Regions from separate parts of the Homo sapiens genome. Here region 2 is linked to region 1. Evidence: fine-mapped expression QTL. A gene starts in region 1. The other region holds a variant in brackets. All regions are shown on one strand. Distances are from middle to middle. Region 1 holds the start of RANBP9 (RAN binding protein 9). Region 2 has its middle 51 kb from the start of RANBP9.

Region 1 (8,335 bases):
TCTTTCCTAGTATCTTTCCTAGTATGGAAAATCCTCTACTGTGGGCACCAGTGGCCCTTTTCCACTAGGGCAATGTGTCCTAAACATTTTCATGTTATGCCATGCACAGAAAATAAGATGTGTATGGTACTCTGAATGCACAAGACTGCTCACTGTTGGAAGGGACCAGTTCTGGTGGCTGTAACCACTCAAGGCCCACCCTGAGCTGAAGTTATCAATAACGTAGCATCTCTGTAACCCAGTCACTGGATAACCTGGGAATCTCTGCTTGCTGGTGTATTCTGGCATGGGCACACAATCTAGGCTTGGTGACTTTGAAACTTGAGTGAGTGGTGTAAAGGCTGGAGGTCAGAGAGATAAGAGTCCAGGTGTTGAAGGTGACATCTGGCAGTGATTTCTGTGATCAGTGCTGGGGTCCAGGCCAGTCTATTTATGCAGCCTCTCCTCCTTTGGCCATTGTCAGTTTTCAGGCCTGCTTGTCCAGCCTTCTGGTCAATTCTGAGAACCATCTAATATCTTTCCAGTAAGTTCCTTTTTTGCTTAAGAGAGCCAGAATTGGTTCCTATTGTTCGATACTGAGAAACCCAGCAGATACAGATACTGGGTAATATTAGAGCAATACATGGTAAAGACTGAAAACATAGGTTCAAGAAGGGTGTGGATATGTTCATGGCTAATGGATTTTTACTATTTACATATCTATGTACAATTCTATTATTTTCATAATAAAAGTACATTACTTTTAATAATGCATTATAATTGTCCATTATGGAAACATTTTACAATTTTTCCTTCATGTCTTTTTGGTAATGATTTTGGCAGTGCTATAATTATCGTATTGCCTCTTTTCATTTAGCATATCATAATCATTTTTCTATGTCTTCAATAACATATTTTTAAGAGGCCATAAAATATTTGTTTCAGGCTGTGCCTGTGCAAGAAGCCTGGAGAGAGTGGGTCTGAAGGTGGGCCCAGGATCCACTAAGTCAAGAGGAAGGGGTGCCTTTTTCTAATTGGTTGACCTCTTTTGGCACTTCCACTGCCCAGAAGGGATACCTTAAAAAAAAATGGCACGAATGTGCTATATGTGCTCCTGTAGCATAACTCCACTGAGTGGGGTATGTGATTAGAATTTCACATGTGACTAGAATTTCTTCTAGTCTCTTCCGGTTGGGCATTTGATTTGCTTCTATATTTAATCTACCATTAATACTTCTTGTGGAACATTTTTCAGCCTAAAGTATTTTCATATTTAGATTGTGTTGTTTGGCTTTTTGATAGATAAGTCAAAAGGTATGAACTCCTTTATGTCTCCTTATAAATATAACCAAGTATGTAGCTTTCCAAAAGGACGTTATCAATGTTCTCTATCTCCTTCTATATGAGAAAGTACTCATTTCACAGCATCCTCCCCCACAACTGAAATCATTAATTTCTTGATGGAGAACCACCAGTCCCCCTTATAAAATGCTTCCAACAAAATGTTAGACAATTCTATTCCTTCAGCTGTTCCTAAGATACGGAAAGTTCTAGATAGTTCCTAAGTGTGCTGACAGAAAAAAAGTACATCTTCAAAAGTGTTTCAAGAAAGTTTAATGACGTCTGGAGCCCATTTATTCTAACATGGCTATCGTACATTTAAATAGAGCTTGGCTTACATTGAACTCATTGTTACTGTAATATAAATGAAAGTGTTAGAACACTGTAAATACAGTGACATCATGTGATTCAAAGTGCAGTGGTTTAAAAAAAGTCATCAAACAACAGGTTAAAATTAATGGATATTTCTATCAAACTACAACAGAGGCCAGGCATGGTGGCTCACGCCTGTAATCCCAGCACTTTGGGAGGCTGAGGCGGGTAGATCACTTGAGGTCGGGAGTTCGAGACCAGCCTGGCCAACATGGTGAAACCCCGTCTCCACTACAAGTACAAAAATTAGCTGGGTGTGAGCACATGCCTGTAGTCCCAGCTACTTGGGAGGCTGAGGCAGGAGAATCGCTTGAACCCGGGAGGCGGAAGTTGTAGTGAGCTGAGACCACACAACTGCACTCCAGCCTGGGCGACAAAACAATAATAATAATAATAATAAAAGTACAACAGAACATCTAGTTGTCTGGGTAACTGAGGGAGAAATTAGGCCGAATGACTCTGTTATTTGTTCTGGCCAGATAATCTTGGCCTTAAATTAAATCACCTTTGGCCTACCTTCTTCAAAACGAAATAATTTTCTCTTCGGCAAAACATTTCTTATTTGACCAAATGATTACCATCATATCTTTGGAAGCAAACAAAATATCAGAATTTACATCACACAATTTACATATGCAAAGCCTGATTTTGCCAGCTAGGGAGGGATAAGCTAAACAAAGGGAAGTGGTGAAAACAAAGTAGTAATGTTATGATGGGTCAGAGAGCAACACTTGGCAAGTTGTGCCAAATTAGTCGACGAAGCATTCTATTGGGAATTGCAAAGTAGGAAGTCCTATTTTTGACTCTGCTGATCTCGGTAAATATTTCCTTGTTTTAAAAATGGGCATAATTTTCTGTTACCTAAGAACCCTGTTATGAAAATTAACGAGTCTATAAAATGTTCTGACGTCTCTAGAAGCCCTTCCTAAACACACACTATAATCTTGTATTCATACAGTGCCTGCTCCTGCTTTTTGAAGATATGCCGGTCTTTATTAATGACATCTTCTACCACTGTTAAGTTCACTGTGAGTCCTCGTAAAATTAATTAATGAAACAGTCACTATTCTAAGTGGGAGACTGCCTTCAGAAGTGGTTTCTACTGCCCATATGGTCAATGCTACGGAATTAAACACTGAAGTACCAAAGGCAATGCGTTCCTCTTTGGAGGGAGGCGGCAAACGGGAACGGGACTGAGGCGAGAGCTAGCAGCACTGCGCGGGGAGCCTGAGCCGCTCCGCACGCCCCGGGCCGACGGGTCCTAGAGCGCCCCGGGGCCTGGGCTCGCGGCGGCCCCAGCGGGGCTCGATTACTCTCGCCTGGACGAGAAGCGGCGCCTCGGCTCCGAGGAGCCCTACGGTGGGGAGGTGGGGCGACGACAACAAAAAGAAGTCAAGTGGGAGGGGATTCGCCGGCGAGGGGGGCGACGGCGGCCGCCAAGGGAGAGGAGGCGGACACCTCCGAAGGGACCTGCGGCGCCGGGAGCCCAGCGATCCTGCCCACGAGCGACTGGCGGGCCCGGGAGGACGCCTCGCGGCGCACAGCCGGGAGCCCCGCGGCCCGCCCCCTCGCACCGCTCGCGCCTCTCTCGCGCCTCCGTCCCGCCCCCTCGCCTAGCGCCGCCCGCGCGCAGCGTCTCGCGCCGGCCCGGCCCGCCCGCCGGGAAACAGCCGCGAGAGCAGCGGCCGCGGCGGCCGCCAGCGCGCCTTCCCCTCCCGCGCTCCCGCGTCGCCCCCGCCCTCGGCGCCTCGTCCCCGGGCCGCGCGCCCGCGCTCCGGCCAACGTTCTCTCCCGGCCTCCCGGGCCCGCCGCCTACTCCCGCGTCTCCGAGCTCCTCAACCGCCGCGGTCTCCCTGGGCGCGCGGCCCGCCGCCTGCTTCCGGGGCGGGCGGACTGGGCGCCTGGTGCCGGCGGCCGCAGCGACAGCGCCCCCGGGAAGCAGAGGAGGAAGGAGAGAAGAGGTGGAGGTGGCCGCAGGCTGAGTCGCGGCCGGGATGTCCGGGCAGCCGCCGCCGCCGCCGCCGCAGCAGCAGCAACAGCAGCAGCAGCTGTCGCCGCCACCGCCGGCGGCCTTGGCCCCAGTCTCCGGAGTCGTCCTGCCGGCGCCCCCGGCCGTCAGCGCCGGCTCTTCTCCGGCCGGCTCGCCCGGCGGCGGTGCGGGCGGCGAAGGCTTAGGGGCCGCGGCGGCCGCCCTGCTCCTCCACCCTCCGCCGCCGCCGCCCCCGGCCACCGCGGCCCCGCCGCCCCCGCCGCCGCCCCCGCCTCCCCCTGCCTCAGCGGCTGCCCCCGCCAGCGGGCCGCCCGCTCCCCCGGGCCTTGCAGCGGGCCCCGGCCCGGCTGGAGGAGCCCCGACCCCAGCTCTGGTGGCGGGCAGCAGCGCCGCGGCCCCCTTCCCTCACGGGGACTCGGCCCTGAACGAGCAGGAGAAGGAGTTGCAGCGGCGGCTGAAGCGTCTCTACCCGGCCGTGGACGAACAAGAGACGCCGCTGCCTCGGTCCTGGAGCCCGAAGGACAAGTTCAGCTACATCGGCCTCTCTCAGAACAACCTGCGGGTGCACTACAAAGGTACTGGGCGTGTGTCCTGCGGTGGGAGTGGGGCACTGACCCGACGTGGCCGGCCGCCGCTGCGCCGCTCTCGACCCGCCCCCGACCCCCGCCCTCGCGGGCTCTGCCCTCGGAGGCCACTCGCCGCCTGTTGTGCTGCTCCGGGTGGGCGCGGGGGTCGCGGTGAAGGGTCCGAGGGTGAGGGGCGAGATTCTTGGAAAAGGAAGGTGAGTAGAATGCCCCAGGGTAGAAAGGAGCTGGTAATCCTAGACCAGGAGCAGGACACCTTGAGGGAATCCGGGATGACAGGACAGAACTGGCTTTCTGATTTCCCTGGGAGATAAATCTTGGGGCTTGGGTAGAGGAATCCATGGACTCGGAGTTGGGTTACATTGTTCTCCAGGTGGTGGGTCAGGCGTTCTCCTCTTACAAGGGGGGAAGAGAGGCACGATTCTGAGGTATGATTTCTAATTAAGAGAGAGCAGGGATACACAGGGGGAGGAGTAATCAAAATTAGGCCAGAGATTGTCTAGGGGGACAAAAGGACAAGGGGCCCAAGTTTGCCATCAATATATTTTAGTAAAAGCAACCGGGAGGGTAAGAGAAGGGAACCCCAGGAACACCCTTTTTCTTAGGGGAGCAGAAACCTACCCCTCCCGATTGGAAGTGCCCTATACAGGTCCTTAGGTGTTGATATCACATGAAGTCTTGTTGAAAACGAAGATGGAACAAAATGCAGCTTAGTATTTTGAAGAAAATTGGCTTATGTTTTGCACTTGCAGTTAAAAACAACAACCTTAGGCTTGTGCTTGCCCCTTTCCTCCCTCACCTACCTCTCCTAGGTTAAAACAAAGCTGGAAGCAAATCAGTTGTATATAAAATTATGAATTGCTATGGGAACTATTGAAATGTAGCCCAATTTAATAGCATGTATCAAGTTTACTTGTGTGGAAGAAAAAAAAATCAACCTAACGTATCAGTCTTGTCTGGAAACAAATCCAGGGTTTTAGGCCCCAAACCTAAAGCAGAAGCTTTTACATTCACGGCAGCCTCACTTTGATTGGCTGTAAAGGGGTCTACTCAGATCCTAGTGACATGTATGTAGAGGAGATAAACAACCTTGTGGTTAAATTCTTAACTTATACGGGACTGAAATTTGAGAAGAAGCTTGATAAGTAAGTTACTATTTAATCAGAAAGGCGAATGGCAATAGAAATCTACCAAATGATTTGGCTGCAAAGAATCACGCACAAAAATAGGCCTTGTTGAACATTCTTTTTATTCTCGCCATACATCCAAAGAAGTACTTCCAAGTGTTATCCTCCTTAATCTAAACGTCTGAACGTTTCATTCACAATATCAAATCTTTGTTTTTTCTCAAGTTAGGACCTTTTGTTAATTTCCTTGTGAAGTATTTCTACTTTTATGTTTTAATTTGTGTGAACGGTGCTATGTTATGAGGTGTTTACTTCTGATCTGGCTGCCAGAAAGCTATTGTTAGATGTGACAGAATTTTATAATTTTAAATTTATGGTTGACAGTAAATAATTTGCTCATAAAGTCAGAGCCAGTGTAGATGAACAAAGAATTCTAGATTTCCTGAGTTCTGCAGTTGTTTGTGGTTGTAGATATTTTACAAGACTGAGCCTCAGTTTCTTCCTCTGAGTGGTGTGTAAGTTGAGCTGGACGATTGGTAAGGAAATTTCCAGCTCTGAATTTCCGTGATGTCTAAGATTCGTGATTACTGTTTATTTAGTACTGTAAGGTGTCTTGATTAGTTTTAGTCTTTTACATAAAATTGATGATTAGGTCAGAGAAAAATACACGTTTATATGAAATTAGTTGGAGTTTGGAATATTTCTGACACTGCTGTCTCAGTTGTTTTTATTCTTGGCCTCTTTATTACTTTCTGTTGTGTAATACTAAGGTTCACTTTCTGGGAACATAACTGTTTTATAAACATAAATCATTATTTCTGGAAGAACAGATTTTGTTGTTATCCTTTTATTTTTCCTCTCTTCTATCTTTCCTTTGTCTCTCTCTTACCCCTTGTCAGAAAGTCTTTTTCCCTTTCTACTGCCTCTTCCTCTTGTCTTGTTACTGTAGACTGTGTGTGTGTGTGTGTGTGTGTGTGTGAGTTTTCCGTTGTTACTGTTGATTTTCTGCGTGTTTTGTGAGAGGACCACGCCGATTGTGGTGGGCAACTGTGTCCCAGTAGCAGTAGCAGTAGCAAAGGAGAAGTATCATAGAGAGTAGATAATACTTTAAAATCACAGAATAAGAAGAGTGAATTTTTATTTAACCTATCATTGTGCTGCATTGGTTTTACCTAAGTATCATGAGACACTTTTAACAGTAAAAACTACTATTCATATATTCACGTATTACAGAATTTCAAAAGAATGATTTTAATTATTTTCCAGAGTGACGAGAATTTTCCTTATCTTTGAAATAGAAGTATTTTGCTTTCTTTTGCTCCAAAGGTATTCTGGTTTTTTGTTGTTGTTCTGGTGTTTTTGTGTATGTGTGTGTGATAGGATTTCAACTTTGTTGCCTTGATGGAGTGCAGTGGTGCGATCATGGCTCACTGCAGTCTAGACCTCCTAGGCTCAAGGGATCCCCCTGCCTCCATCTCCCAAGTAGCTGGGACCACAGGCTCCTGTCACTATGCTGGGCTAAGTTGTAATTTTTTTTTTTGTGGAGATGGGGTCTTACTGTGTTGCCTAGGCTAGTGTTGAATGTTTGGGCTCCAGTGATCCTCCCACCTTGGCATCCCAAAGTACTGGAATTACAAGCCTGAGCCACTGTGTCCAGCCTGTATTCTGTTTTTAAGATGTTCTTCTAAATTGAAATTACTGCTTTTGGAAGCAGTATTGTTCCTGAAATGATTTGAAGAGATTAATGTTAGATAATACTAGACATGCAGATAAGGTTGATTGGATTGCAGAGGAACAACAGGGTATGTATAGTATATGTGAAATTTTTTTAAAGGCCTTTTGCTTAGCAGTCACACAACAACTATTGAAAAACCCAGGGATAGCCCCTCTTATTTTTGAAATTGTTGTCAGTATTGAATAAGTACAAATGTGACAAGTTTAGACTTAGTTATAATGATAACGGGAAAATAATTTTAATAAATATGACAATGGACTTAGTTTAAATGTTTCAACAACAGATTGCATTTTTATATTTTTCTAGTTATTACCACTATTTGGATATTTTATAGAGTGCTTTATATATACACACACTAGTGGATCTGGACAAGATCCTGGAATTTTCATTTTAAATTTTAGAGAGTGGTAGAACCTGGAGGTTAGATCTTCCCAGTCATGAGTAAATCAGGATTGAAAATTTTCACTAACTCCAGATTTAGTGTTCTTTTCACAATCCCATAGTATTGCCTCTTTAAGTTCATATGAGACTTAATTATCTCAAGTAGATAAAATCCTGTGATCACATTTAGAACTTTTAAAGAATAGTTGAGATTGAAAATACTTACTCTGGGGGAAAAAGGTAACTGGAACACAGTGCTTCAGAAAAGTCCAGACACCTTGATTTTACTAATTTAGAACAGTTTAGAAGAAATCCAAGGTAAGTCAAAGTTGGGAATTATAGGAAGCAATGAAATAGTCAATTTCAGTGGGTGTGGTGGCTTACGCCTGTAATCCCAGCACTTTGGGAGGCCAAAGTAGAAGGATCGCTTGAGCCCAAGAGTTCTAGACCAGCCTGGGCAACATAGTGGGACCCCGTCTCTACCCCTAAAAATTAACCGGGCTAAGTGGCACACACTTGAAATCCCAGCCACTTAGGAGGCTGAGGGAGGAGGATTGGTTGAGCCCAGGAGGTTGAGGCTTCAGTGAGCTATGATGGCCTGGGTGACAGAGTGAGACCCTATCTTAAAAAAAAAATAAGTAAATAAATAGTGAATTGCATTTTTTTTTTTTTTTTTTGAGACAGAGTCTTGCTCTATCGTCCAGGCTGGAGTGCGGTGGTACAATCTCTACTCATTGCAGCCTCTCCTGGGTTCATGCAGTTCTTCTGCCTCAGCCTCCTGAGTAGCTGAGTAGCTGGGATTACAGGCGCTTAGCACCACGTCCGG
Region 2 (8,335 bases), 52 kb before region 1:
GTGTTGGTCTTGCATTTTGGGGAAGAGGAGAAGAGAAAGGACGTCATTTGATTTAAGGACATAAAGAAATACCAGAGCCTGGGGCCGGCCCAGAAAAGACTTAAGCAGGAGTGATTTGTCTTGTATGCATCCTCCCTCCTCTCTCCCGACCTTTTCCTCATTCCATGGTATCCCTTCTTTTGTCTGATGCCCACTGCCCGCCTGTAGTCTTAGTACCCTAACTCACCAAAACCCTCTACTTTCCAGAAAGGGACAAATCTCACCATTGATGGCTTCATTATAAAAGTGGGATTTAACAACAGAGACCTGGATTCAAATCCTAGCATGGGCCGGCTACAGTGGCTCATGCCTCTAATTCCAGCACTTTGGGAGGCTGAGGTGGGAGGATCACTTGAGGTCAGGAGTTCCAGACCAGCCTGGCCAACATGGTGAAACCCCGTCTCTACTAAAAATACATAAAATTAGCCAGGTGCGGTGGTGTGCACCTGTAGTCCCAGCTACTTAGGTGTCTGAAGCAGAAGAATCGCTTGAACCCAGGAGGCCGAGGTTGCAGTGAGCTGAGATCGTGCCACTGCACTGCAGCCTGGGTGACAGCGCAAGACTCTGTCTTAAAAAAAAAAAAAAAATCCTAGCGCATCTGCTTCCTAGTTGTCTGAACTAATCTCTCCTGTGTAAAAGTAGGGATTATAATGCTTACTGTATCTGGTAGCGTGCTTTCAGCGGCAACTAACGGAAAAGCCAACTCAAATGAGTTTAACCAAAAAGGAAATGTATTGGCCTATGTAACTGGAAGTTCACAGATGGGACAGGCTGATTGAACCCTGGTGTCAAGGACCTAGGTTCTTTCTGCATCTCTGCTTTCCATCCTCAGTGTCAGCTGCCTTTTAAGCCTGGCTCCCTTCATAGTCAGAATGGCTGCCACAAAGACACAGGGCCACTCCCTTAACCACAAACTAATAACTGACATCAAGGGAATGCTATGTGCTGATTGGCTTGAGCCTAGATTCCTAAGTCAATCACGAGTAAGAAATAAAAATGAAATTCCAAGCCCCTAACTGACTGAACAGACCCCTTCTTGGCCAAGGGAATCTTGCAAGCTGAATTCACGGCCATGAGGGGATGGGAGATTGGACACGCCTCATTATACCCCCTACCTCTATAACAGCTATTAGGTTTTCTTCCCTCAGGGCTAAACAGAAACCAGCCCTTTCAAAAGACTACTAGTTTATCTTTCCAGGTACAGAACAAAGACACCTTCACCCCTCCTCAGACATCTTCTTCCTCTATTCCCTTTTTCTTCAAATGTTCACCTTATCTTAGGAAAAATGAGCACCAACTAAAGTCTCACAAGTATGTAATCATTTGTCTCATGCCCTGCCCCACTTTCTTCAGGAAAATGTATAAATGCTAAACCTCCTGAGACCCTCTTTGGAAAAAACAGCCACAGATGCTTCTGTGACTCGCATTTTTCCTGGGCACTCCCTTTAAGCTGCCTTGCTAAACCGCAATGATTCGAGACTTATTCCTCCATCACTCATTTTCGTTGTCACTAGCAAGGAGGGATAGGATTACCGTGACTGGTACAGACACCTGTGGTTCCCAAACATGAGCACGCATCAGAATAACCTGAAGGATGTATCAGACCCCACAGATGATGGCCTCAGCTGGAGTTGTTTTTTTTGTTTTTTTTGTTTTTTTTTTTTTTTTTGAGGCGGAGTCTTGCTCTGTCGCCCAGGCTGGAGTGCAGTGGCATGATCTTGGCTCACTGTAACCTCCGCCTCCCAGGTTCAAGCCATTCTCCTGCCTCAGCCTCCAGAGTAGCTGGGATTACAGGCGCCTGCCACCATGCCTGGCTTTTTTAATTTTATTTTTATTTTATTTTTATTTTTTTTAGTAGAGATGGGGTTTCACCATGTTAGCCAGGATGGTCTCGATCTCCTGCACTTGTGATCCGCCTGCCTCAGCCTCCCAAAGTCCTGGGATTACAGGCATGAGTCACCACGCCCAGCTGGCCCGAGTTTTGAATTCAGTAGGTCCAGAGAAGGGCCCGAGAATTTGCCTAACAAGTTCTCAGGTGACAATGATGCTACCACACTTTGAGAGCTACTAGCATAAACTAATCAGGGGAACCTGTAGACTGGGGTCAGTTCCTCAAATGGCACAGCGAGGAAGCAGTAAAATTGATGTTGGAGAGTTAATTGTGAGCTTCAAAACCTTGTAGCAGGCTGGGCACAGTGGCTCACGCCTGTAATCCCAGCACATTGGGAGGCCGAGGCAGGCGGATCACTTGAGGTCAGGGGTTCAAGACCAGCCTGGCCAACATGGTGAAACCCTGGCTCTACTAAAAATACAGAAAAATTTAGCCGGGTGTGGTGGCACACACCTGTAATCCCAGCTACTCAGGAGGCTGAGGCAGGAGAATCACTTGAACTCGGGAGGCGGAGGTTGCAGTGAGCTGAGATTGCGCCACTGCACTCTAGCCTGGGCAACAGAGCAAGACTCCATCTCAAAAAAAAAACAAAGAAAAGAAAAAAAACAGGCCGGGTGCGGTGGCTCACGCCTGTAATCCCAGCACTTTGGGAGGCCGAGGCAGGCGGATCACAAGGTCAGAAATTCGAGACCAGCCTTGCCAACATGGTGAAACCCTGTCTCTACTAAAAATACAAAAATTAGCTGGGCATGGTGGCACACACCTGTACTGAGGCAGGAGAATTGCTTGAACCCAGGAGGCAGAGGTTGCAGTGAGCTGAGATCGTGCCACTGCACTTCAGCCTGGGTGACAGAGCAAGGCTATGTCTTGGAAAAACAAAACAAAACAACAACGAAAAACCTTGTAGCATAAATACGGGATTGTTTCAGTTGCATATTGCTGTGTAACAAAATACCCCCAAACTTAGTGACTTAAAATAGCAATTTTTTACTATTTCTGATGATTCTGTGTGTTGGCCGGGCCCAGTTGGGCTGTTTTCACTTGGGGTCTCACATGTAGCTATTCTCAGAAGTTGGGTGGGCCCCAAACCATCCACAAGCTACAAGGAGCTGGATGTCCAAGATGGCTTCTACATTCACACATCTGGCTAGAATAGCTGAGGGCTGGCCAGGCATCTCTTTCTCCACTCAGCTACTCCACATGGCTAGCTTGAGCTTCCTTACAACATGGTGGTTTCAGGATAATTGGATTTTGTATTTAGCAGTTGACTTTCTCAGAATGAGCATCCTAAGGGACCAAGGCAGAAGCTGTAAGGCCTGATTTAGCCTTGCAAAGGCCACACGGTACCACTTCTGCCTCATTCTGTTGATTACGAAAGAGTCACAGGGCCCACTCAGATTGAAGGGAAAGCCCCCACAGAAGGGCATGAATATGCAGAGGCAAGGGCTATAGGAAGCCATCTTGGAAATTAGCTTCTGCAGGGATTAAAGGAGATCATTCATGTGGAGTCCTGAGTAAGAACGAAAGTAACGTATTTACCACAAGTAAGTGCTCAGGAAATTAGCATTATTATTATTATTGCTGTTCTTTTCAGGGGAATTTGCCTATTATACTTTATCTGTTATTGAGGAATTTAAGGTTTTCTCAACTAGAAAAGGATTTTCAGGCACTAGCCAGAAGGTGAGGCAGTATTTTCTTAAGAGTGATCTTGTCAGTATCCTCAAAACTGTATAAACAACTATTTCTTTGACCAGGAGTAAGACCTGTATTTTCAAGTATATCAGCCTATGCAGTGGAAATGTTTCTTTTCTATTGGTTTCCATGTGGCTCCTACATTAGAATTTGGCTTTTGATGAGACATTTTTATTCAGACTCTTATAGATGAGCTAATTTTACTAATAATTATGACAGTGCTTTTAATACTGCTATATTATTAATACATCAGTATTTAGATAAAAGATAGTTCTCAAATGTCCTGTTGCACATTTCAGTTCTGGAAAATTTCTAGAACAACAATTTATCAAGACACTATCACTCCCATTCAGCCATCTCTATTCTGAGGACAAATACACCTTGCAAATTTGCATAATATCATGCATCACTTAGTTTCAGAATGGTCTCATACATAGAATGATTTTTCTTAATTTATTTCTGCCAAATGTGTGTGTGTGTTTGTGTGTGTGTGTGTGTGTGTGTGTGTGTCTTAGCTACTGGTGGTTTTTATTTTCCTTTCCCTTAGAGTGTGAAAGAGAGTTGTTTTTTTATTTAACCTCTTGATCAAGGAAAACTTGAGGGGCTTTCCTTTTCTGCATGTTGTTGGGGGTCGGGGAGGAGCAGGTGTAAGCTGTAAGAAAAATCTGCTGGTCCAGAGGGAAAAAAACAAGGAGCGCCTGAGGAGCCAGGGTGTTCTGTCTGTTCGCTAATGTACCCATGCAGCCCTGCCAAGCTCTGATGTGTTTAGACTTGAGCTTCAAGGGGGAGATTGCACAAAAGCAAGTTCCTGGGATTTGTTCTGCAGTCTGAGTAGGCTGG[G/C]GTGTTCTCACTGAGCTATTTCTGTATAAAAAGCTGTCTGGAACCATCTGAGAAGCCACTAACCACTGTGGTTTACTGGAATATGCCTTCTATTCACTCTCTGTTGCATCATTTCCCCTCCATTTTATGCTCAAAAGAACGACTGTGTGTGTCCATGTATACATCCATGTGCGTGTGAGTTCCAGAGTTGCGTTGCCATGGAGTTATTTGGAAAAGGCATCTTGTGAACCACTTGAACTGAACATACAAAAATGCATCTCAAAAATCAAAGCTGCTCTTATATGCATAGACTCTTTCTGGAAGGATACACAAAAAAATTCATAACAGTAGTTGCCTGGGGGGATGGGAACTGCAGGGGGGAATGCTGTGAGGGGGGTATACTCTTCACTGTGCACTGCTTAATTTTTTTTATCATGAGCATGTAATAGATTTTTTAAAAATGAAAACTGGGCCAGGCGTGGTGGCTCACGCCTGTAATCCCAGCACTTTGGGGGGCTGAGGCAGGCGGATCACCTGGGGTCAGGAGTTCAAGACCAGCCTGACCACCATGGTGAAACCCCGTCTCTATTAAAAATACAAAAATTAGCCGGGCCTGTTGTCGGGCGCCTGTAATCCCAGCTACTCAGGAGGCTGAGACAGGAGAATCGCTTGAACCCAGGAGGTGGAGGTTGCAGTGAGCTGAGATCACGCCCATTGCACTACAGCCTGGGAACAAGAGTGAAACTCTGTCTCAAAAAAAAAAAAAAAGAAAGAAAGAGAGAAAGAGAAAGAAAGAAAGAAAGAAAGAAAGAAAGAAAGAAAGAAAGGAAAGAAAGAAAGAAAGAAAGAAAGAAAGAAAGAAAGAGAAAGAAAGAAAGAAAATGGATGTTTAAATACTAAGGCTCCTCTTGGGAAATATTCCCTGACTCAAATATCTCTCTTGACTCCTGCACCCAACTCCCCAGGAGGAAATTGGGAATCTCTGAACAATCCGTGGGCTGAATACGAAGGAATCTGCCTGGCTTCTTGGATACACACTTCATACTCTCAAGGACAGCCCTCTTTATTGGAATGCACAAAGTATGTGGAAAAGAGATACCATGTCTTGTCGGATTCAATTTTGCTCCTAACATAGTGTGGATTAAAGAGTAATCAATAGTGACTTTAAGCACATTCTTTCCGGCAGTATCACAGAGAAAATGCAGCTGGTAGTGAATGTACCAGCCTGCTGATTGCAGGGAGCTAAACATGTGTATTGTATCTCCAGATGCCTGACACTACCTGCCAAGCCAACATGAAGCACCCACCCAGGTTGGACCAGGAAGCTTCCTACCTGGTCACGTAGGAAAAGACTAAACACATTCATAACGTGTCTATACAGGTATTGATTCTCCAAGAGATGATGGATCAGGCTTCAGAAAGAGTGGTGACCTTATTGTATGTTTCTGTATTATCTTTGCTGAGCTAATGGCCCACTTCCAGACCAAGAGCACAAATTACAAATGAATGCCCCCAACAGCAGTTCCTTTTCCATCTTTACTATACGGGGAGCCCACTAAAATAAAGGCTGTCAATGCAGCATCTCTCATTGACAGTCTGTTCATTGTGGGCTAACTGGATTGTACTGGACAGAGTTCTATTCACTGGAAATCATTAGCCAACTCCAGAGGGAGGAAAACGGAATAAAAAGGAAAAACATTGCCCATCACGAAAATAACTCGAGAATTGTGCAATCTGGCAACATTGGTCATCTGTGTTGAACTTGCTTTCAGCACTCTGTTAAGTGTACTGTACCACACCCTACCTCTGAAGCGATTACTCCCTTCCTTTTGAATAGCAAAGTAATGGGAACTGGAAAAACTTCTGTGAATTTGGCAAGGTTTAGTATAAATGTTTCCATTAAATCTGGGCAAGGCATGGATGGGGGAGGGAAACGCATCCACCGATTATGCTTTTGTGCTACCTCTTGGTTGAGGGTTACCTTTCAGAGGTGAAGCCAAACTTTTCCCATCCTTGAGATCATGCCTAGACCTAGTATACTTGGCTGACAATATGATTTTGCTACACAGCTTATATATCGTTCACATATGTTTGGAATTATCATGGAACTTCATGTTGTACTGAAAGGTTTCCCACAGCAAATTCTTTTGCACATAGAGCTACCTAGTGTCAGAGTTTCTTCCTAAGGACACCACACTTTTCCATTTAACACAACAGGGCAGGTGCTTCAGAGGATTTCAGTTCAGTCGGGAGAAATTTACTGACTGTTTTCATACATGTTCATGTCTTGTTGCACAGCCACTCTGCGAGGCTGACATCATTGACTTAACTTTACCAGGGAGTAAGCCATTGCTCAGGGAAGTGAGTGACCTGCCAAGGCTGCCCCACTGGTACATGCCAGAGCTGGGACTCACACCCAGGTCGTTCTGGCTCTTATGGGAGCTTCCTCCCCTGCAGTAAAGCCCTCTTTGATGCTGAAGGTCAAGGTGTGGCTCATAGTTTGGACAGGGCTTTTAGGGAGCCTGGCCAGACCCTGGAGGGACGTTGATGAGAATGGGGACTTGGAGTGGGAGAGTTTCGGTAATCCACCACACAAGTGCACCTGGAGCCTGAGAGGTGGGGTTCCTCCAGCTTAAGGGCAGGTATGGAGGGACTAAGCCACAGGGTAGGACTTTAGAAAGACTGAGGAAAACACAGGTGGGCCTTTAGTTGTGGAGGATATAAAGGAAGCCATGATGGCATTGACACAGAATCAAAGGTATCAAAGGGGTCAAGATGAAAAGCTTCAAGGCGAAACTTTCATCACAGGGGCTATGGTGGTGAGCCAATTACTGGAATCAGGTCACAGCAAGACCAGCACCAGCCTGACTCGGTACTAAGCCTCTACTATGTGGCAGGCACTATTCTAGTTATTATGGAAGTAGCCATGAACAAAGTAGATCAAGTATCTGCCTTCGTGAAACTGGAGTATAGTGAGAGAAGATGAATAAACAAGGAAATATATATCTAATTAGGTTAAATACTATAGGGAAAAAAGCTGCATAATGGAGTTCGTCGTGCTGGTGACGGTGGTGGTGTTTGCTATTTTACATAAGGTAGTGAGGGAAGGCCACAGGCCATGGGACATTTGAGCAGAGACTTGAAGGAAGGGAGAGGGTAAACTTCCTGAATACCTGGGAGAAGAGCTTTGCGGGCGGAAGGAACACTTACCGCAGAAGCTTTGAGATCAAGGGTACTTGGGGTGTTTTGGTATAGCAAAGAGATCAGGTTCACAGGTCAGGGAAAGCAGTGTCTGAGATGATGGTTGGCACACATATGATGCTTACTAGGAAGTGCTCTTGGGATCAAACCATGGAAGGGAAAGAGGGGCAGGAAGCAAGACTGGGCAGAGGGGGATGAGCTGTGATGCAGTCTCAACTAAAGCCCCAGACAACCCCATGGGGATGTTGAAGATAGGATGGCCCTTCAGAGCTGCTCTGAGCTGGGGAGAGGGGACAGGCCTTTACACCTCCAAACCATTCAGCCACTGGATACTGGCTACGTTGAGAAGGGAGTGAGATAGGGTGTTGAGGGGGACAGCGCTCTCCAGCCAAGGCCACCTCAGCATCCGAGGGGTGGCAGCCAGGAGCACGCCTCAGCTCCTGAAGGACGCTCTAGGCAGCACCTGCTGGTGGGATTGGAGCTTGAGCCAGGAGGCAGGGACAGAAGATGAGCTCAGGGAGGTGTCCAGGAGCCAGACTGGGGGAGCCACTGTGGGCCATGGTAAAGACATGGCCTTCTCTTCCTCATGAGGTGGGGAGCCATCGAAGGGTATGACAGAGGAATGCTAAAGTCTGGCTTCTGGGTTAACCTGATCACGCTGGCAGCTGTGTGGAATAGACCGCAGACGGGCGA

The links.
Region 2: its variant is fine-mapped to the expression of RANBP9 in aorta (GTEx, PIP above 0.99).

Annotation. Positions count from the first base shown.
Region 1 is chr6:13,706,857-13,715,191 of GRCh38, reverse strand. It overlaps RANBP9 (RAN binding protein 9), which reads left to right and starts at 3,357. Exons shown (of 14, transcript NM_005493.3): 1 at 3,357-4,257. The coding sequence starts at 3,687. LOC124901264 (a long non-coding RNA gene) reads left to right here and starts at 2,438. Exons shown (of 2, transcript XR_007059462.1): 1 at 2,438-2,509; 2 at 2,651-2,840. RefSeq lists silencers at 2,853-3,622, 3,783-3,902, 3,983-4,032, 4,293-4,412.
Region 2 is chr6:13,758,979-13,767,313 of GRCh38, reverse strand. No RefSeq gene overlaps it. Among named protein-coding and RNA genes, the nearest start is that of RANBP9, 51 kb to the right of the region's middle. RefSeq lists a silencer at 2,027-2,126. The variant G/C (reference allele first, on the strand shown) is at 4,463.